Homo sapiens: one gene and its partners. The protein of the gene in region 3 interacts with the protein of the main gene of each other region in a pairwise test. Each region holds a gene or a part of one and is shown on either strand. Other genes may lie near its edges.

Evidence for each region. Proteins that work in one complex are often made in the same cells at the same time.
Region 1: the proteins of TMEM45B (region 3) and TMEM218 interact in binary tests that used the Homo sapiens proteins (3 or more experiments, as listed by UniProt).
Region 2: the proteins of TMEM45B (region 3) and TMEM254 interact in binary tests that used the Homo sapiens proteins (3 or more experiments, as listed by UniProt).

Annotation. Positions count from the first base shown.
Region 1 is NC_000011.10:125,101,627-125,108,648, reverse strand, and holds part of TMEM218 (transmembrane protein 218), read left to right. Parts: intron 1-5,839; 5' UTR 5,840-5,915; exon of another isoform or gene 5,916-5,983; coding exon of another isoform or gene 5,984-6,012; intron 6,013-6,297; exon of another isoform or gene 6,298-6,331; coding exon of another isoform or gene 6,332-6,407; coding exon 6,408-6,517; intron 6,518-7,022. UniProt on the Homo sapiens protein: May be involved in ciliary biogenesis or function.
Region 2 is NC_000010.11:80,074,229-80,081,664, reverse strand, and holds the start of TMEM254 (transmembrane protein 254), read right to left. Parts: upstream 3,001-7,436; 5' UTR 2,966-3,000; coding exon 2,879-2,965; exon of another isoform or gene 2,640-2,878; coding exon of another isoform or gene 2,481-2,639; exon of another isoform or gene 2,472-2,480; intron 2,421-2,471; exon of another isoform or gene 1,985-2,420; coding exon of another isoform or gene 1,973-1,984; intron 26-1,972; coding exon of another isoform or gene 1-25.
Region 3 is NC_000011.10:129,811,077-129,818,850, reverse strand, and holds the start of TMEM45B (transmembrane protein 45B), read right to left. Parts: upstream 3,004-7,774; 5' UTR 2,953-3,003; exon of another isoform or gene 2,560-2,952; intron 1-2,559.

The sequences.
Region 1 (7,022 bases), 4.7 Mb from region 3:
TTTAACAAGAGTTGTTCATCACTCTAGCAAATCACATAACTGAAGGCAGCACAGCTCGTGGTATTTGAGTTGCCAGAACAACACACCTGCATAGTCTGCATTTGAAGCTTTTGCATTCATGGTGATTCTAAGTTTAGGTGCAAGCATCTGACTACTGTACTTCATTATGTATTCTAGTGTAGTCAGCCTGAACATTTGTATATTTAAACATATGCTATTTCATTACGAATTACTTTCCATTTAAAATCAACTTCTGTATATCATATAGAGATCTAGTTTTATTCTTTTCCTATTGGAGAATCATTTGTCCCAACACTATCTATGAAGTTCTTTACCCATTGAATCATAAAGCCAACTCTGTGCTGTAGGAAGTTCTCACAAATGCATGGATCTGTTTCTGGGTTCTTGATTTTATACCACTGGGCCATGTGTCTTTGTGCCACTATCACACTGTTTTAATTACTTTGGTTTTTCAATGTGTCTTGCGGCAGTTGGTAACAAGAAAGGCAAGTTGCCATCCTAGTTCTCAAAATTGTTTTGGCTATTCTTGGGTTTTTGCTCTTCCATATGAATTTAGGATCCGTTTTCAAGTTCCACAAAAAATTGTTTTTAGACTTTGGTTAGGATTGCATTGAATTTATAGGTTAAGGAAAATTGAGATTTTTTTAATTGAACCATCCCATCCGGGAACACAGGTTATTTCTCTGTTCAGGTCTGCTTTATTTCTTTATTCAGGTCCTCTCTCTCTCTTTTTTTTTTTTTTGTCTTTGATAAAGTTTTATAATTTTAGCTATACAAATCTTACTCATCTTTTATATTCATATTTATGCAGATATATATATATATATACACACATATCCACATCTTTTTATTATGAAAGTTTAAAATATATTCAGAAATATAGAAAATAGGCTAGCAAACATCTACACACTCATCACCCAGCTTCAACAACTAGCTCATGACCAGTCTTGTTTCATGTCAGCCCCTTCACCTCCTCTCACTGAGGTAATAGAAAGCTCCTAGAAACCCTTTTCTGTTATCTGTAATGTGCTACGTGTGTATGCATATATCTTTATCATAAATAATCTTTTAACAATATAATAATATCATCTTTTTAATAGTGTTTTTTCACTGAAAATACAAACAGTAATTTCATAATATTATCAAATATCTGAATATTCTTCAGATTTCCCCAATCATTTCATAAAAGGTTTTTGCAATGCTTCGTTCGAATCAGGACCAAATAAGGGTCCATATACTACACATGGCTGATACATCTCTTAATATTCTTTCTGTAAACATTTTAGTGAAGGGTAATACACATACAGAAAAGTATATAAATCCTAAGTGCATGGTTAGATACAACATCACCGTATGAACAAACCCAGGTGAACAAAACCCAGATCAAGAAACAGAATTTTATCAGCATCTCCCTGAACCTCCTACAGTCACTATGTTTCACAAGCCAACCATACGCCTGACCTCCAGCCCCTAAAATTAGTTTGACCTGTTTTGAACATTATATAAATGGACTCATATACTATGAACTCTTTAGCCTCTAGCTTTTTTCATTTAATATTTGTGAAATTCATCCACATTGTTGAGTATAGTTGTAGTGTGTTCTTTCTCATTGCTTTATACTATTCTCATTGCTTTATACTACATAATGCTTTATATACTGTATGAATGAATAGATTGTAGAGTACTATATCCACTCTATTGGCAGATATTTGGATTGTTTAAGGTTTTAGCTATTTCAGGTAGGGCTGCAATGTCTTTTTTTTGAATTTAGGTGTGCGTTTCTGTTGGGAATACACCTAAGAATAGAAGAGCTGGATGTAGGATGCATTTATATTTAGCTTTATTAGATACTGCCAATAGTCTCCAAAGCAGTGGTTAACAAATTATGGCCCTTGCCAGCCGTATATGAGGGTTCCAGTTACTCCACATCTTTGTCAACACTTGCTGTTGTCTGTTGTTTTCATGTTAGCCATTCTGGTGGGTATATGAAGGCACTGAATTTGGTTTTAATTTGCAATTTCCGGATGACTAATGAAGTTGAGCACCTTTTTACATATTTATTCTCATTCAGGTATCCTCTTTCTCAAGTGTTTATTCTTTTTTTATCTGCTTGATCTATCAGTTTCTGAGACATATATTAAAATCTCCTGCTAAATTAGTGGTTTTATACATTTATTGTAGTACTTCTGTCAGTTTTGGCTTTATATATTTGGAGGTTTTGTTGTTAGGTTCACATTTGTTTCAGGTTGTATCTTTTTACTGAATGGTTCCTTTTGTCACTGTTCTTAATATTTTTCAGAGCTTTACATCTGTTTTGCGTGGTACTAATATTGCTTCATAGCTTATATTTTATTTTGTTTCACTTGGTTTTTTTTCAACTGTGGCTTATAAAAAAACAAAAACAAAAACAAAAAAACAGAATTTCCTGTCTTAACCATTTTTAAGAGTGCAGATCAGCAGTGTTAAGTATATTCACAGTGTTGTGAAACAGAGCTCCAAGATGCTTTCATCTTGCAAAACTGAAACTCTATACTCATTCACCATCTCCCTATTCCCTCCTTCCCTGGTTTTTGTCTTGTTAATATTTGCTTTGCATGTCTTTCTCAATCTCTTTATTTTCAGCCTCTCATTATACTTTCTGTAGAGCTTTTGTACACAGCTATTTTTAAAAAGAAAAATCTAAGAGAATTTCTTTTAGTAGTCAAATATAATGTTTCCATGTACTATGATTACTGTTGTATTTGGGTTTATTTTTACAATCTTATTTTGTATTTTCCATTTTCCTTGCGTATTCTTTGTTCTGCCACCCACCTCACACCCACTGACCCTTGCCCCACTTTCTGTTTTCTTTATTTTTTTTTCACTTTACTAGTATAGAAGCTATTTTTTCTATTTCTGTTGCTTGCTGTTTACCTGTATGTTTTTTTAACTTGTGTACTTAGCTTAAAAAACATATACCTCCTCCAAAACAAAATCACTGTAGAATGCTTTAACTTTGAACTATCCTTTTCCATCTACCATATAACTGTTGAGTAATATTTAGTCCTTTCTGATTTTTAACCCCTCAAAAATTGTCATTATTACAGAAATCTTTACTGTCAATATTTCTTAATAATTTTCTCACCATGCTTCCTGTATCTCATACCTCCTTTCTTGGTTCATTTTCCTTCTTGCTGAAGTATGTCTCTGAGTAGCCCTTTCACTGAGGATCCTTGAGAGGTGTACTACATTTCACCCTTTGTATGTCTGAAAACATCTTTGTTTTACACTTACTCTTGAGGGAGTCTTGCATGCCAGCCTGTGGGTTTAGTTTTGTCTCTGCTGGGATCCAATGGGTTCTCACTTTTAGTCTAGTTTTCATGTTAATCTTTCTATTTGGGATTCCCATATCACATCGGTAGTATTGAATCTCACACATGGATATGATGTGAGGTGGGGATTCAGATTTCTCTTGGGCTGTTGTTTTTTGACCTGTGGCCTGAAGCACTCAGCCAGCTTCCTTCCAACTAAGTCAGTAGCAAATTATTTAGACCCTATTTCAAAAACTGGTCAATCCTGTGAGGGCCCAGCTTTCTGCATTGTTCTCATTGCTAGTTCTTTGCCATCGTGGGCTTGAGACCTTATCTGCCCTGAAGAGAATCACCCTGAAGGTCTGTATCAGGCACCAGGACCCTCGTAGACTTTTAGGCTCAGCTCAGGCCTTGAGTTACATTTTTTTATAGCACTTAATGATTTTTCTTTATTGCTTTCGAGCTCTGCTGTGTACTAAATTCTTCTTGTTCTATTTTATTGAACATTTATGTGTTTGCTGTTGTATGAGGCACTTCCCTTGTTAACTTCCATCCAGCATATTGACCAGAGGTTACAGTCATCTTTCTAAAACTCCATATGATCCTTTCACTCCCTCACCTGATGTTTGTGGACTTGTTAGCACTGTGTCATTTATTCCTCCCACAGATACTTGTTGTGCATAATCTCTGTGCTAAGAACTGGGGTTACCACAGTGAGAAAGATATCAGGTCTCTGCCTTCGTGGAGTTTACTATTCTAGTTGGACAGACAGAAAATAAACTTGTAAACAAATAAATGAAAATATTAACTAGTTTTGTGAAAAATGCTCTGAAGGAAATAGAGTGATGGAGAGTCAGTGTTTGAGGGGTTACTTTAGAGAAGACACTCGGGGAAGACCTCACTGAAGAGTGACATTTAAGCAGAAATCAGAAGGCTGAGGAAAGCCAGTCCTACAAATAGTAGCAGGAGTGCTTGGGGTTGAGGGCTAGTTCCAGGCAGTGGAAACAGCAAGTACAAAGACCCAGAGATGGGGAAACCCCGGGCGTGTTAGAGTGACCGAGATGGCGCCCATGTGGCCCTAATGAGGGCAGACTGCTCCCCAGAGAAGTTAGGCATGCAGGTGGGCCCCAGGTCCCATCTCCCCTCACTCTGTCATCTTTTCACTCTGATTCTTTCCTAAATGTGCCTGTGCAGAGTATTTCCTTTGTAAAGCCCCTCTCACTATTGCAGTTCCCACTGCACTTCGCTTTTACCATTAATCAGAATGTAATATGGACACTTGTTTTCAGGACAATGTTCTCCAATAGACCTTGAGCTTCTGTCAGAAGATATCTTATTCACCTTTGGCATCCCCAGCTTGTAGCGCAGTGCTTTACATGGTGGGAACATCATAAATGTTGATTCAATAAACGTATTTTTTTTACCAGTTCATGCTTAGACCCTCCTTTCCAATAACTTTATAACTTCTCATAGCTAATATTTTCGTGGTATTTAAACCATAAGGGTAAAGAAAACCAGCAACCTAGAGGAATGTGTTTGCTTAAGACTTGTCTCCAATGCTGAAAAGGAAAACCAGGAGAGGTAGTGTGGTGTGCTGTTCCTCTGCTGTGAGTTGAATGGTGGTCCCCAAAAATATATGTCCGCATCCTCACCCCTGGAATCTGTGACCATGACCTTGTTTGACAAAAGGGTCTTTGCAGATTTAATTAAGTTAAGCATCTCAAGATAATACTAGATTATTTGTACAGACCCTAAATCCAATGACAAGTACCGTTATAAGAGACAGAAAATGTGAAGACAGACACAGGAGAATGCCATGGGAAGATGGAGGCAGAGACTGGAGTTGTGAGTTAAAAGCCAGTGAATGGTGCCTGGAGCTACCAGAAGATGGAAGAGGCAGGGAAAGATTCTCCCCTAGAGCACTGATCCCCAATCTTTTTGGTACCAGGGACTGGTTTCATGGAAGACAGTTTTTCCACAGGGGGATGCAGGGGGGTGGTTTCCGGATGAAACTGTTCCACCTCAGATCTTCAGGCATTAGATTCTCATAAGGAGCCTGCAACCTAGATGCTTCGCACGTGCAGTCCACACTAGGGTTCGTGCTCCTGTGAGAACCTAATGCCGCTGCCACTGATAGGACAGGAGGCGAAGCTCAGGTGGTAAGGCTGGCTTGCCTGCTGCTCACCTCCTCCTGTGCGGCCCAGTTCCTAAAAGGCCATGGACCAGTACCAGTCCATGGCCCAGGGGTTGGGGACCCCTGCCCTAGAGCCTTTGGAGGGAGCACAGCCCTGCTGACACCTTTATTTTGGATTGCTGGCCTGTGAGAAAATAAATTTCTATTTTGAGCTGCTAATTAGGAAACTAATAGATACCCCATCGCGCTTATATCTCACTTACCCATCCTGTAACATGGCTATAGTAATACCTTTCTCAGAAGCTTCGCTCCGGGATTCAATGAGATATGTTTGTACGGCACTTAGCACACAGTGAATGTTCAAAAATAGTGATGGCTGTTCCTCTTCTTTAAGGACTGGGAGTTTTCATCCTCTTGAATAAGAACTCGACAACAGAGTGGGAACTTTCTGTCTTGTGATCCATTGCCTGGTGAGTCACAGCTCACACCATGGATTTAACCTGAGAGCTTCAACTTCTGCTTTGGCCCTGGAGTTCCCATGCCCTGGTGTCTTCTACCAGTTCTTAGGTAGGGTTTTATATTCAGAGAGGGTTCAGCTTTCTCCCGTGGGCTGGGGGAAGAGGTCAAAGTAGAACTCAGGTACCAAATTTGAAAGGAAACACTCAGAAAAAACTTCTGAGCGCAGAGCGGAAAACACCCTCTCAGTCCCCACCAAAGAGAAAGGCTTTGGGTTCTAAATTTCCAGTTTCCATTAAGGGACTCTGGGACTGGACATTTCTGAAAATTAATGACCTGTACTGAGTAATCCTCCTAACACACTGATCATCAAAAAATAACCTGTAATGAGTTTAGGCTTTCTGTATTTGTCTGAATGCTTTCACGGGAGTGTGTTGCACTGGAGCACAGAGGACACTCGATCGTGCGGCGCGCAGGGCGGGGGGCCGCCGCTGCCTCCCCGCGGGATGGCTGGCACTGTGCTCGGAGTCGGTGCGGGCGTGTTCATCTTAGCCCTGCTCTGGGTGGCAGTGCTGCTGCTGTGTGTGCTGCTGTCCAGAGCCTCCGGGGCGGCGAGGTAAGGCATTCTGTCCAACTGGGAGTCCTAGGTAAAGCAATTAGAGGCAAAATCGCTGATGCTCACTAAACATTTAGAATTTAAGAGATCAGTTTTGTAATTACTGGCAGTTTGAATGAGTTGCATTTTAACCTCTTTTTATAAACACTAACTGTGTTATTTATGCTCTGGAGCAGAGATGGGAGGAGAAGGAAGTAGTGTTCTTGAGTTCTAACTGTGGCAAGAAACTCTGCTTTCACTGCTTATTGAGTTTCTTGAGGCTGTATGTGTATGTGTTTATGAATTGTTCAGATTTATGGCAGAGGCTTGGTCCAGTACCCGAGGCTCTAGCCCTGGACCCAGGAAAACGAAAGCAACATTTGATGAGTTGGGCCTGCTTTCTATATCAGGCATTGCCTTCAGAACAGGGTTAGGCCATAAACCGACTCTGAAAACACTAGAGTTGCACTCTGGCAAGACAGTGTTAGTATGAAGCAGAGAGTTGTAGAATTTTCTAAAGTATTCT
Region 2 (7,436 bases), on a different chromosome or scaffold from region 3:
ACAGGGTCTCACTCCGCTGCTGGGGCTGGAGTGCAGTGGCATGATCATGACTCACTGCAGCCTCCACCATCTGGGCTCAATCCATCCTCCCACCTCAGCCTCCCAAGTAGATGGGACTACACGTGTGTGCCACCATGCCCAGCTACTTTTAAAAATTGTATATAGAGATGGGGTCTCACTATGTTGCCCAGGATGGTTTCCAACTCCAGGGCTCAAGCAATTCTCCAATCTTGGCCTCCCAAAGTGCTGGGATTACAGGCATGACCTACTGTGCCAGGATGACTTCTATTTTCTAAAAGCAACTCTACTGGGAGACTTATGCTGAGGAAAGTATGTGGTTATCAGACTCAGTGCCCACGGTGGATGACTCTTAAAGTCTTTTTTTCTTCCTTTTCTTCTTTTGTTTTCTTTGTAGAGAAGGGATCTCGCTTTGTCACCCAGGCTTGAGTGCAGTGGCCTGATCACGGCTCACTGCACCCTTGACTTCCCGGGCTCAAGCGATCCTCCCAACTCAGCTTCCCCAAGTAGCTGGAATACAGGCATGGCTACCACGACTGACTAATTTATTTATTTATTTATTTATTTTAGATGGAGTTTCACTCTGTCGCTTAGGCTGGAGTGCAGTGGCACGATCTCGGCTCTCTGTAACCTCCGCCTCGCGGATTCAAACGACTCTCCTGTCTCAGCCTCCAGAGTAGCTGGGACTACAGGTGCATGCCACCACGCCCAGCTAATTTTTGTATTTTTAATACAGACAGAGTTTCACCATGTTGGCCAGGCTGATCTCCAACTCCTGACATCAGGTGATCCGCCCTTCTCGGCTTCTCAAAGTGCTGGGATTACAGGTGTGAGCCACTGCCCATGGCTAATTTTGTGTGTGTGTGTGTGTGTAGAGATGAGGTTTTGCCATGTTGCCCAGGATGGTCTCGAACTCCTGGGCTCAAGCGATTTGCCCGCCTCGGCCTCCCAAAGTGCTGGGATTACAGGGGTGAACCACCATGCCTGGCTGACTCCTATTAATACATTCCACCAAAACCATTATTTTATAAAAGATATTAGCAAATTTTGAGTTTATGTGCTTTGGCTAGTTTCTTTACTGCAGAAACTGGCTCCAGCCAAACCTCTGTTTAATTTAGAATTCCTTTCTCGGCTTTCCCTTTTTGTACGGCTAAAACTGAGAATGATCCACTGCATAGAGATGGAAAATAAGTGAGATAAGGTTGTGACATTTTAATAGCAACTGCTTAATCACATAAATTTTTCGTAATCTTAACTTTCAGCCTCTGTATTGTAACTTCTGTCAGCTAAGACTTTTCTGAGAATAACTCAACAGTTTCAAAATGTATTGTCCCATTCAAATCTTTGTCAAGAGCAGTACTACCTCTCTCACGATGTTGTTTCACATCTGAAAGTTAAATAATGCACAAATATCACTGCATCCTCCCAAACCAAAGGGAAAGGGGAGCATCTGCCAGCTCCACAAGATCCCAATTTGAAGTCCCCAAAGCTTTCCTCCAACTATATTCTAACTAGTCACAGACACTAAATCGTAGAACAGAAATGCACCTTTGAAAATTTTCAGTTCAACACCTCCATTGTACATATGGGGAAATCAGGACATAGGTTGTCAGATTTGACACCAACAAACAACACTGTGGACAAGACAAATCTCCAATCTCCAGGATCTATTGGTATACCCAAATAGCTTCGCCTTCCTTCAAAATTTTACCACCTTATCACTTGACGTTAGGAGTTCGAGGCCAGCCTCACCAATACCCATGTCTACTAAAAACACAAAAAAATAGCTGGGCATAGTGTAATCCCAGCTACAGGTAAAGACATGAGAATCGCTTGAACCTGGGAAGCAGAGGTTGCAGTGAGCCGAGATCGCCCCACTGCACTCCAGCCTGGGTGACAGAGCGAGACTCCGTCTCAAAAAAACACAAAACTACCACCTTAGCCCCCAACCTACTTTTCCACGCATCTTTCTCGTTATCCTTTAAACAGATTATTTCTCAGCCAAACAAACGTCGCTCTTTTTCTAGGTACAGCTTTCTTCTTGCTTCCACACCTATGTCAGAACAGTTATAGCCTCTTTATCCTCCCTTACCACTTAAATCCTACCCATCCTTTAGATTTATCCCCGTTTTCCAAACAATTCCTATTGGCTCAAACATTCTGCTTCGGAAGCCCTATTCTGACTTGGCAGGCCTATGGCAGTCTGTTAACTTGACTTTCCGCTTCGTGAGAGGCTTAGGCTCGGATAACCCGTTAGTAACCATGCAGAGGTGAGGACCCAAAGACAGGAACACTAGAAAGCAGAAACTATCCTAAGAGCCCACCGAATTTCCGCTTACATGAGTAACCGAGACAACCGTCAGATGCGCGTGCGCACAGGCCCCGTTCCCAGAGCTCCCCTCGCCCTACGAGGGCCCGGCGGGCCAAAACAGAGGCCCGCCCCGCCCCACCCCACGCCTCACCGCGAAGTAGCCCAGCCCCAGGACTGTGACCAGAGAGGGCAAGGGTCTTGCTGGACGGAAATAGGCGGTAGCCGCATTGCTGGCCTCCGACTTCACCATCCTCTTGAAAAACCCAGACACAGAGTTGGCTGGGAGCTCCCCAGCCGTCCCCGCCCCCATATAAGAAAAGCCTGGCTAGCCGGTTTCTCAGGGCCCTGGGCGCCCGCCCAAGACCCTGGCGGACCAGTATGCTTGCTCTCATTGCGGAGTCTGGTCCCCTCCCCTCCGCTCCTAGCGCGCGGGAGTCGGGATTGTGCTTGCACGACTTCCCCCGGCCCGCGGCCTGTGAGCCCAGGTCCTGGGGTGAACCGAGCGCTCGCTCGTTCGTCAGACCGTAGCGCTCCAGCGGCTGTCCTTACTGTGTAGTAGCCAAAGCTGAGGGTGATGACTGTGAACCAGAACAGACTGCCTCGCTGAAAGTAGGTCGCGCCGGCTGCCGTAGCCATGGCTGCAACACCTCCCCGGGAGCGCGCTTCAGGACACCGTCGAGCGCGAGCGCGGAGGCAGGGCCGGGGCCGGCCCGCGCTCCCTCGCCATCCCCGCAGGGAGAAGATGGTGCTGGTTGGGAAGTCCCTGAGAGCGAGTCTCCCTGTCTGGCCCCAGTACAGGGGCCTTGGAATCACACCTGGGCTCAGGTCTGGAGGGCTGGTCATCATCTTGTAGGGGAGACACTCCTGTCACTTTTCTGGGTTTAAGATAAAGATGTTCGGGCTGGCGCGGTGGCGTGTCCCTGTAATCTCAGCACGTTGGGAGGCTGAGGTAGAAAGATCCCTTGAGCCCAGGAGTTTGAGACCAGCCCGGGTAACATAGCTAGACTCTGTCTCGAATGAATGAATGAATGAATGAGGTGTTGGAATAAATTCCAGCAATTTGGGAGGCCGAGTCGGGCAGATCACTTGAGGTCAGGAGTTTGAGACCAGCGTGGTCAACATGGTGAAACCCCGTCTGTACTAAAAATACAAAAAATTTGCTGGGCGCGGTGGTGCCTGCCTGTAGTCCCAGCAACTCCAGAGGCTGAGACAAGACTCTCTTGAACCTGAGAGGTGCAGGTTGCAGTGGGCCCAGATCACGCCACTGCACTCCAGCCTGGGCAACACAGCAAGACCCTGTCTCAAAAAAAAAAAAAAAAGATGGTGTTTTACTAAGAGTCTAATTTTTGAAGTTCTCTGTGCTGTGCACCTTGAGAAATAATGCTGTCCTCATTAGTTAAGATGTTTGGAACTATACAGCACCATGGTTATGAGCAGGGACTGTGAAACAGGCTGCCTGGATTTAAGTCCTGGCTCTGTCTCGGCTATTTGTGTAAGCTTAGATTAATTACTTAGCCCGGCTGTGTCTTAGTTTCTGTATCTGTAACATGAGGATATGCCAGTTTTGGGAACCTCAGGGTTTTTAGGGTGGGTTAAATGAGTTGATATCTGTAAAGAAAGCACAGCAGTGTCTGGCCCATAGTGCTTTGTAAGTGTGGGTGATTATCAATACTGCTGAGCCTTTAGCATGTGTGCCAGGCCCTGTGCGAACTGTTGTATCATCAATGAGCTGTGGGAGGTATATGCAGCTGAAGTGTCTGATTAAACACTATTTAATCATAGAAATAGAAAATCATAGAAATAGAAAAACTATTTCACCTGGGCCTTAAAAATGGGTTACTGGCCAAGCGCAGTGGCTCAAGCCTATAATCCTGGCACTTTTGGAGGCCGAGGTGGGTGGATCGCTCAGGAGTTCGAGACCACCCTGGAGAACATGGTGAAACCCTGTCTCTACTAAAATACAAAAAATTAGCTGGGGGTGGTGGCGCGTGTCTATAGTCCCAACTACTTGGGAGGCTGAGGCACGAGAATTGCTTGAGCACCGGAGGCGGAGGTTGCAGTGAGCCGAGATCCAATCACTGCACTTCAGCTTGGGCTATAGAGTGAGACTCCGTCAAAAAAAAAAAAAAAAAGTTACTATACTGTAGCTGGTATTTATTGAACACCTACTATGTTCAAGGCATTGTTCTAAGTACTATACAATAATTAACTAATTTAATTCTTAAAACAATCCTAGGCAGTAAACTATTGTCCTTATTTCAAAGAAGAAGAAACAGCACAGGGTCCTGTCATGCCCAAGTGGGTGAGGAATACTGGAAAACAATTGGCAGCTGAGTGTTCCAGTTCCAGAGAGGGCACTCTGGAACCAACCAAGGTTCTCTTTCCTCATTTTTTACGTGAGTATCTTGGGATATAAAGTCTTAAAGAATGAATTTCAGAATATGTGAGGAAATCCATTTCCCAGGTAGACCACAGTGCTCTTGAATATCAAGATTAACAGTAACAATTGTAACAATTGGTGTTTTCTTAGTCCTTATCATCCTTGATCACACCACCCTCTTTATTCTTCTCCTCCTTCTGAATAACTCCTTGTTTTCTCAGCTTTCCTTTTCTTTCTTCTCTCCTAGAATAAGTTTTGCTTATTATCTTCTTTGTGTTTTCAGTACCTATCAGATTCAATTTTCACCTTCAGCTGACTAAAATAATCTCTTCAGCCCTCACCTCTTCCCAGTTGGTCACCTTTACCAAAGATTACTCACACCTCAAAGACAAGAAGTCCATTATCATTATCCACAGAGTCCATCCTCACCAAGGCTACCCTGTCTGTGGTTTTTTTTTTTTTTTTTTTTTTTTTTGAGATGGAGTTTTGCTCTTGTTGCCCAGGCTGGAGTGCAGTGTTGCGATCTCGGCTCACTGCAACCTCTGCCTCCCCACTTCAAGTGATTCCCCTGTCTCAGCCTCCTGAGTAGCTTGGATTACAGGTGTGCACCACCACGCTTGGCTAATTGTGGAGACGGGGTTTCACCATGTTGGCCAGGCTGGTCTCGAACTCCTGACCTCAGGTGATCTGCCTGCCTCGGCCTCCCAAAGTGTTGGGATTACAAGTATGAGCCACCTCGCCCGGCCTACTCTATGTGAACAGCACTTTCTTTCTACCTTGTACCCAGATTCCTTGCTTTGACTTCCCCCATATCATATAAAGATTGCAGACTAATCAGCTGTCAAGAGTTCTACTGATTGGGTAATACAATATCTAATCCTTCTAGATTAAATCATGGCTTCATCTCCACTGTCTCATGAGTCAGTCACTCCTTCCTACTTCCTGCCACTTCAGCCCACATGCAGTCCCTTTATTGAATCTGTCTGACAAATAACAGGATCATCTTTTTCAAGTACAGTTCTGATCAAGCCTTTACCATACCAAAACTTTTTTTTTTTTTTGAGACAGAGTCTCACTCTATTGCTCAGATTGTAGTGCAATGGCGCAATCTCAGCTCACTGCAACCTTGGCCTTCTGGGTTCAAGTGATTCTCCTGCCACACTCTCTCTAGTAGCTGGGACTACAGTCACATGCCACCACACCCAGCTAATTTTTTGTATTTTTAGTAGAGATGGGGTTTCGCCATGTTGACCAGGCTGGTCTCAAACTCCTGACCTCAGGTGATCCACCTGCCTTGGCTTCCCCAAGTGCTGAGATTACAGGTGTGAGCCACCATACCCAGCCTACCTTACCAAAAGTTTCAAGAACTTCCCCAATTTTAGGCTGCCGTTTTTCAGTATTTCTATTTAGGTATTAAATCTGCAACGAGGGAGATATTGGAGAAATTATTCATGCTACAAGAAATGTTGGAGAGGCAAAATGGCTTCAGTCAACAGACTACAGGGAGCTAGGTTTTAGTTTCATGTCTTCTACAACCCTGCTTGGAGCCCAGCCTGTTACTTAGTGTCCTATGTCTTCCAACTCCACACTATTTTTTTTTTTTTTAATAGAGACGGTGCTTCACTATGTTGCCCAGGCAGATCTCAAACTCCCAGCCTTAAGTAATCCTTCCACCTCAGCCTCCCAAAGTGCTGGGATTATAGTTAGAGGCTGTACCTGGCCACCAACAGCTCAACACTAAACATCTTACTGTTAGCCCCTCACGCACAGATAAGGAATCCAGAAGACAGTACCAGAAGATCTTTGTTCAGATGTGAGTAGTTTATGTAAATTCATGAAGAACTTACAGTCAACTGGATGTTCAGAAGGCATTCCTTTCTTCATTACAGTCACCCTTCACACACGGCAGGGGTGACTGAATTCTCTAAGGTCCAGGCACCCTACACTGCTGTCCCATCTGAATTGGCAGAGAAATATCTCATCCCTGGACATTTTTATCCCCCTGTCTAGATGGATTAGTGACCTAAATATGAAAAATAATGAAGAAAGTCTGGGAGAATAGTTTTACAACTTTTGAGGGAGGGGAAGGAAACCTTTTAGCAAGTTATTAAAATTAAAAGCCATAGAAGGAAAGATTGAAAATTTAACTGCATCCAGATGAAAAGCTTCATTCATATGAATGACACTGTAAATAAAGTTGAAATACCTGGAAGAAGGAATTCTCCAATATATGTAATTGACAAATGATTAAAGGATATGAATTGGGCATCCTCAAAAGAGAAAACTTGAGACCAAGCAAAATGAAAGGATGGTTCAATCTTAATGGCCCTATGGGATACGCAAAATAAAGCAAAAATAACATTGTTTTTCCTCATAAGATTGGCCTACTAGATATCAAGACACACTGTAAAGAGCTATAATAATGTAAAACATTTGGCACTTGACATGCAGAAATCAACAAATGGATCAATGAAAAAATAATGCAGACTCCAGACATGGATCTGGTATATACATATCCAAGCGTTTATTTTATAATAAAGGTAACATTTCAAATTAAGGAAGGAATAATGGATTATTCAGTAAATTATTTTGGGGCAATTAGTTATCTATTCCAGAAAAAATATTTTAAATAATACTGTCCACTCCCAAACACAAATACACAAATGATGCAGTATCAAGAGATACAGAGGTATTAATAAGTAGTCCTCCTTGGGGAGTTATGATGAG
Region 3 (7,774 bases):
TCTTAAATCCGGTTTTCTTCCTTGAAAAACCACAAGATTGGACTTGACAATCTTTAAGGTTATACTCAGCTCTAAGATATTTTTGTAATTATATGGAACAAAGATGGGCATGAAATATACCAAACGAGAGAGTTTCTAAATTTAGATTCTGATAATTCAAGTCAGAAAACATATTAAGTGTTCGGGAAAAACAAATCACAATCTTCCATCACAAAATTCAACAAGAACAACAAAAACCACTCCAGAGGCAGCTGTGGTATTCTGGAAGGAATGTTGGTTTGAGTTCTGGCTCTGCCATTTAATTACTGGCTAACCCTGGACCACATACACAATATCTCTGTTTCCATCTCCTCATTTTTGAAATACGGATTCTAATCTGACCTGAACAGTGCTGTTTACAAACATCGCCTTGTGCTCTATAAAGCCCCATTATGATTTCAACAACCAGCAAGATAATGGCTTATGATATCTAAGTCCTGGCAAGGAGAATGCGGGTGTGTACCTTGCTATATTCAGTTGAACTCTGCATCACATACAGAAGGCTGATAGACCTTTTAGCTTTCCTTTTTCCTCCAGTAGTGTAGCTTGTGGCCATTTAAGTTTTACACAAGAGAATAGAAAAGAGAGATAAAATTTGCTAAAATTCAAATAGTCTATTTGTGTTTGTTTCTAGCCTCAGTGAAGGTTTTGGGGAGAGGGGTAGCTGGTTAAAAGAGTAGAAGCTTAAGAGTTCAAAGAAAGTGTGAGGAGGACAGCACTCACCTGTGGCCTCTAATTGTTCATATTCAGTATGGTCTCATACTGGGAATAATCTAGTGTTTGTCTTATGATCTTTCTATAGAAACAAATATGGAATGTGTCTATAAGTACCATTAGTTGATGACACACTAGTGACTTTAATTCTCTTACAGTAAAAAGTTTTGCAATAGCAAGGACTTTGGCTAGGGGAGTGACTCTATGTGTGGTGAAACTGTCCTCACCCATTTTTCATTTGAGGAAAAGAGATAATCTTTTGATTACACCCAACACAGGTAACATCTGTACTTTGAACAGTTAAGTATAGCAGCTGATGTTTAACTGCAGGTAGGGGGGAGATGAGAAACAGAAATAACTGGTGCCAAATGTGAGATTCAATTACCTCGACCATCACAACCAACATCAACCAGAAGGGTGTGGGAGGAACTCATGGAATAAATGGGAACAGGTGTGGCCTGAGGATAAGTAAGTGGGGGCACTGTTTCCATCTTCATGAAGATGTGAGAGGAAATCAAAGCTCTTTAAAAAGAAGGAAATGGAATGCTTGGCTCCTGTAATATCAGAACAAATAATGCACAGCCAGAGGTCATGCCTCACCTTCTGCTTATCTCAGTCACCTCCACTTGTAAAATCAGTGGGCCATATTCAATAAAACCTTCATATCAGTTCCATATCTTTTCCCAGAAACCCCAGGAACAGAGGGAGCCAATATCCTTATTAAACCAAGAAGCTCACTGTCACAAAGAGCTAAGTCTGACGCCCCTGGGCCCCTACCTAACCACGTGTCCTGATTCTTTCCATAACTTCCCACTGCACAACATCCAGGTTATACTGAAGATATTACACATCTGGTTAAAAACAGTACACGTCTCTCATGAACAATAAGCCATCCTTTCTATTAAAATGAGTGTAAAATTGCAGGTAAAATGCTGTAGGCAGGCCTGTTTGGAAGGCTATGCGACCCTAGGAGACAAAAAGGTGCAGGAGGAGGAAAAGGGCAGACACCGCAGAAAGCGGTCGAAGAGAACGTGAAAGAAGTGGCCATTTCTAGCTGGGCGCGGTGGTTCACGCCTGTAATCCCAGCACTTTGGGAGGCTGAGGCGGGTGGATCATGAGGTCAGGAGATCGAGACCATCCTGGCTAACACGGTGAAACCCCGTCTCTACCAAAAAAAAAAAAAATACAAAAAATTAGCCGGGCGTGGTGGCGGGCGCCAGTAGTCCTAGCTACTCGGGAGGCTGAGGCAGGAGAATGGTGTGAACCCGGGAGGTGGAGCTTGCAGTGATCCGAGATTGCGCCACTGCACTCCAGCCTGGGCGACAGAGCGAGACTCCGTCTCAAAAAAAAAAAAAAAAAAAAAAAGAAGTGGCCATTTCTGCAACTTTTAGGAGAGCTACCTGCCCTCAAATTTTGAAAGGGTTTCTATTTCTTAAAGTGCTACGTTTCCCTGGCTGAAACTCACATCTTTCTTCCCTCTAGGGCTGGATCAAAGCTTCAGAGGTTGTTTCTCTGGCCCTAGACAGGGCCACCCCCGCAAATTTCTCCCCCACTGCGCCTGACATCCGCTTCCATCCATGGCTCCATTAACGGAAGCTAAGCACTGGCTCGGGGGACTTTATCCACCGCCCGGTGTTATTAGATTCCAGGCTTCCTGGCCTCAGGAAAGGATCTGGCTCGTGTATTTGTGTATCGCAGCTAACAAGGAAAGGCAGTCGGTACCAGTGCCCAGAGCTATGTGAGCTGTGACTGGTCACAGCCCAGGAGCCAGATGGCATCCCCGGGGGCGCGCGTCCCCGGACTCACCGGGCAGACGGAGGCCCGGGGCTTCACACCTTCCCCTCACCGGGCAACGCGGCAGACCTGACTCGCGGGGGACTGAGCAATATTCGTTCCAGGGCCGCGGCCAGCCGGACAGAGGCACTCGGGGGCGGTGGGAGTAGTGTGCGCACCGGTTCCGCAGCCCGGAGGGGGCCCCAGCTGGGCTTCCGCGACACCAGGGCCCTCCATCCCCTCCCGTCCTCCCCTAGCGCAGCCTTCACCCCTGTCCCAGAGCCCCTCCCTGTCCGCGTCCCCTCCCCCGCAGGTCCCCTGCGAGTCGGAACCTCCTCTCCATCACAGCCCCGCTCCTTGGCGGGGCCCCCTCTCCCTTCGAGCCCTCCTCCAGGTTCGAGCCCCCTGCGGGTACGGACGTCTGACCTGTGCCCAGCGCCTCGCAGCCGTCTGCAGCCCGCGCCGCGCGCCAAGTGCGTCCGCCCAGAAGCAGGTGCAGCTCCAGGCCCGCCCCGCCCCGCTGCGCCCCGCCCCGCTCCACTCCGCCAGGCCTGGCAGCCGCCAGCCCCTTTCCACCCTTGACCGCCCTTCCCGGTCCCGGCCAGCGTGCGGGGCATCTGTCGTCAGGTCCGCACTTCCTCCAGGCCTTTGACTTTCCCGTGGAGATGTCTCTGGCCTCAGGAACTCCCTAAGCTGTGTGCTTCAGGAGAGGCTGGTTCCTGAGTCACCCAAGAGGACTGCAACCAACCTGGACCTCCTGAGATGCAAAGAGATCGCAGGGCCTGGGAGGCGGCGAGGACCCTGAGAACAGGCTGTGGCTCCGAAGAGTGTTTGTTACCAAGCCAGGCAACCACTGCGAACACACCGCAGAAACAGCCACGGATCACCGTCCAGCAAAGGAAGAAGGTGCCAACGGTCCATCAGGGACCACAACCCAGTTTTTTTAGTTTAAGTTTGGTGGCTAAGTTTGAGTGTCACATAGTTCATTCATTCCTTCATTCATTCAACAAATCTGCCATGTTCCCATCTGATAACAGATCTGACAGGTGGGCACTGTTCTAGGTGCTGGCGATAGAGCTAAGAAGGAAACAAAGTTCCTGTCCCGGAGAAGGGGGCTACCTGCTGAGGAGAGCATGACTTTCTTTGTGGTATTGTGCTGTGGCAGCAGGGTCCTCTTCTGTAAGCTACTGAGAGGTGAAACCCGCTGGGCTTCTGGGTCGGATGGGGACTTGGAGAACTTTTCTGTCTAGCTAAAGGATTGTAAAAGCATCAATCTGCACTCTGTGTCTAGCTAAAGGTTTGTAAACACACCAATCAGCACTCTGTAAAAATGCACCAATCAGTGCTCTGTGTCCAGCTAATTGGTGGGGACTTGGAGAACTTTTCTCTCTAGCCAAAGGATTGTAAATGCACCAATCAATGCTCTATGTCTAGCTAAAGGTTTGTAAACACATCAATCAGCACTCTGTAAAAACGGACCAATCAGCACTCTGTAAAATGGACCAATCAGCACTCTGTAAAATGGACCAATCAGCGCTCTGTAAAATGGACCAATCAGGAGGATGTGGGCAGGACCAATCAGGAGGATGTGGGCGGGGCCAATGAGGGAATAAAAGCTGGCCATCCGAGCCAGCGGCAGCTGCGTTTGGGTCCCCTTCGATGGTGTTGGGGTTTTGTTGTTTCGCTCTTTGCAATAAATTTTGCTGTTGCTCACCTTTTAGGTCCACACTACCTTTATGAGCTTTAACACTCACAGTGAAGGTCTGCAGGTTCACTCCTGTAAACCAGCGAGACCAGGAAGCCACCACAAGAAACAACTCTGGAGCCGCCACCTTTAAGAGCCATAACACTCACTGTGAAGGTCTGTGGCTTCACTCCTGAAGTCAGCGACACCACGAACCCACAGGGAGGAGCAAACAACTCCAGACGCACCACTTTTAAGAGGTGTAACACTCCCTGCGAAGGTCTGTGGCTTCACTCCTGAGGTCGGCGAAACTACGAACCCGCTGGGAGGAAGGAACAACGCGGATGCGCCACCTTTAAGAGCTGTAACACTCCCTGCGAAGGTCCGCGGCCTCACTCATCAAGTCGTGCATAGACCACGAACTCTCTAGAAAGAAAAAACTTCGGACACACCTGAACATTTGAAGGAACAAACTCCGGACACACCATGTTTAAGAACTATAATGCCGTGAAGGTCCGCGGCAGGACCGGGACCAGGAACTCTTCAGAGGGAACCAATTCCGGATACACAGCTTCGTGGAATGGTTCTGCACTGTGTGTGTGTGTGTTTCCCGTCAACCCTGTGCACACTATTAGAAGAACACAAGCGTTAAGGCTCCCTCTCAGTCCTGCCGGTAAGAATCCAGGGCTGATGCACCTATTAAAAGCTTCTCAGGAGGCCTGGGGAAGTGGGGGTTGAGAACCACGGGTCTAGATCTCTAAGATGCCTGGCAGCTTATTCCACTGTTGAGGGCACTGGCAATCAGGAAGGGCTTCATGGAAGAGATGTTTGCATTTGGGTTTTAAAGCAGGGCCACAGCTAGATATTAGCAGTGCAGAAGGACACGGGATCCGACGGGCAGCCTGTTGACCAAATGGCTCCGTTTTTATAAAGTCAAAGAACATCACTGTGAAGGATAAGGCATTAACTGGAGCAGACCTTTCCCTGGTAAAACAGAGCGAATGGGATCTGGTGGGAGGTGGTAATGGCCAAGAGGTAGTGCCGTCAGTGAAAAGCGTCATGGAGTCGTGCACCTTACAGGGAGGATGGGCCGCAGCCAGGAGCTGAGAGGGCATCTTTTAAATTTGCCGTCAGCTCAGGAACTTAATCACACATCTCATCCTAGCCCTTGCTCACACCCATTGTTTTAGAAATCGTTGATAGAGTGGAGTCCTGGATGCCTGTTACTCTGGGAGAGGCTGTCCTCTGTCACCAGATCCCTTTTATGGACAGGCATTTTCTTTAGTAATATTTACCTTGTCTACGATGATGAAACAAAGGTGTGACCTCTTAATTGTATAGTTAATGGTGAGTAGAGATGCTTTTTTTTTTTTTACTTTTTATTTTTGAGACAGTTTTGCTCTTGTTGCCCAGGCTGGAGTGCAATGGCGCGATCTCGGCTCACCACAACCTTGGCCTCCTGGGTTCAAGTGACTCTCGTGTCTCACTCTCCTGAGTAGCTGGGATCACAGGCATGCGCCGCCATGCCCAGCTAATTTTGTGTTTTTAGTAGAGTCGGGGTTTCTCCATGTTTGTCAGACTGTTCTTGAACTCCCGACCTCAGGTGATCTGCCCACCTCAGCCTCCTAAAGTGCTGGGATTAGAGGTGTGAGCCACCTCGCCCGACGGAGATGCTTCTTAATATTAAAAAATCTAAACAAAATAATTTCTGCTTCAAATTATAATAACCAGGTACCAGGACAAAACCAATTTTTTGTTGTGTGTGTGTGTGTGTGTTTGAGACGGGCTCACTTTGTTGCCCAGGATGAAGTTCAGTGGTGCAATCATAGCTCACTGTAGCCTCGACCTCCAACGCTCAAGAGATACTCTTGCCACAGCTTCCTAAGTAGCTGGGACTACAGGTGTGCATCAACACGCATGGCTAATGTTTACATTTTTAAAAATTGCAATAGTTTTTGGGGAACAGGTCATTTTTTTGTTACATGGATAAGTTATTTAGTGGTGATTTCTGAGATTTTTGTGTACTCATCACCTGAGCAGTGTACACTGTACCCAATGTATAGTCTTTTATCCCTCACCCTCCTCCCACTTTCCCTTGAGTCCCCAAAGTCCATTATATATATATATATATATATATATATATATATATATGTATGTATGTATGTATTTTTTTTTTTTTTTTGAGACAGTCTTGCTCTGTCGCCCTGGCTAGAGTGCAGTGGCGCAATCTCAGCTCACTGCAACCTCTGCCTCCCAAGTTCAAGCGATTCTCCTGCCTCAGACCTCTGAGTAGCTGGGACTACAGGCGCGTGCCACGACGACTAATTTTTTGTATTTTTAGTAGAGACAGGGTTTCACCATGTTAGCCAGGATGGTCTCAATCTCCTGACTTCATGATCCGCCTGCCTTGGCCTCCCAAAGTGCTGGGATTACAGTTGTGAGCCACTGCACCCGGCCCATTATATCATTCTTATGCCTTTGCATCCTCATAGTTCAGCAAACCCTTATAAGTGAGAACATACACGATATTTGGTTTCCCATTCCTGAGTTACTTCACTTGGAATAGTGGTCTCCAACTCCCGTACAAATTGCTGCAAATGCCATTACTTCAGTCCTTTTTATGGCTGAGTAGTATTCCATGGTGTAAATATATCACATTTTCTTTATCCACTTGTCAGTCGAGGGGCATTTAGGCTGGTTCCATATTTTTGCAATTGTGTATTTTGCTCCTATAAACATGCAGATGCAAGTGGCTTTTTCATATAATGACTTCTTTTCTTCTGGATATATACTCAATAGTGGGACTGCTGGATCAAATGGTAGTTTTACTTTTAGTTCTTTAAGGAATCTCCATAAAGTTTTCCACAGTGGATGTACTAGTTTATATTCCCACCATCAGTGTAAAAGTGCCCTTTTCATCACATCTATGCAAACATCTACTATTTTTTGACTTTGTAAATTATGGCCAGTCTTGCAGAAGTAAGGTGGTATTTCATTGTGGTTTTAATCTGCATTTCCCTGATAATTAGTGATGTTGAGCATTCTTTTTCATGTGTTAGTCATTTGTGTATCTTCTTTTGAGAACTGTCTATTCATGTTCTTTGCCCACTTTTTGATGGGATTATTTCTTTTTTTCTTACTGATTTGAGTTCCTTGTAGATTCTGCATATTAGTCCTTTGTAGGACGCATAGTTGAATATTTTCTCCCATTCAGTGAGGTGTCTGTTTACACTGCTGATTATTTTGCTGTGCCGAAGTGTTTTCATTAGGTAATATCTATTTATTTTTGTTTTTGTTAGATTTGCTTTGGGGTTTTTGGTCTTAAAATCTTTGCCTAAGCCAATGTCTAGAAGAGTTTTTCCAGCGTTATTTTCTAAAGTTTTTATGGTTTCAGGTCTTACATTTAAGTGTTTGATCCATCTTGAGTTGATGTCTGTATAAGGTAAGAGATGAGGATCCAGTTTCATTCTTCTGTATGTGGCTAGACAGTTATCCCAGCACCATTTGTTGAATAGGGTGCCCCTTCCCTATTTGTGTTTTTGCTTTCTTTGTTGAAGATGAGTT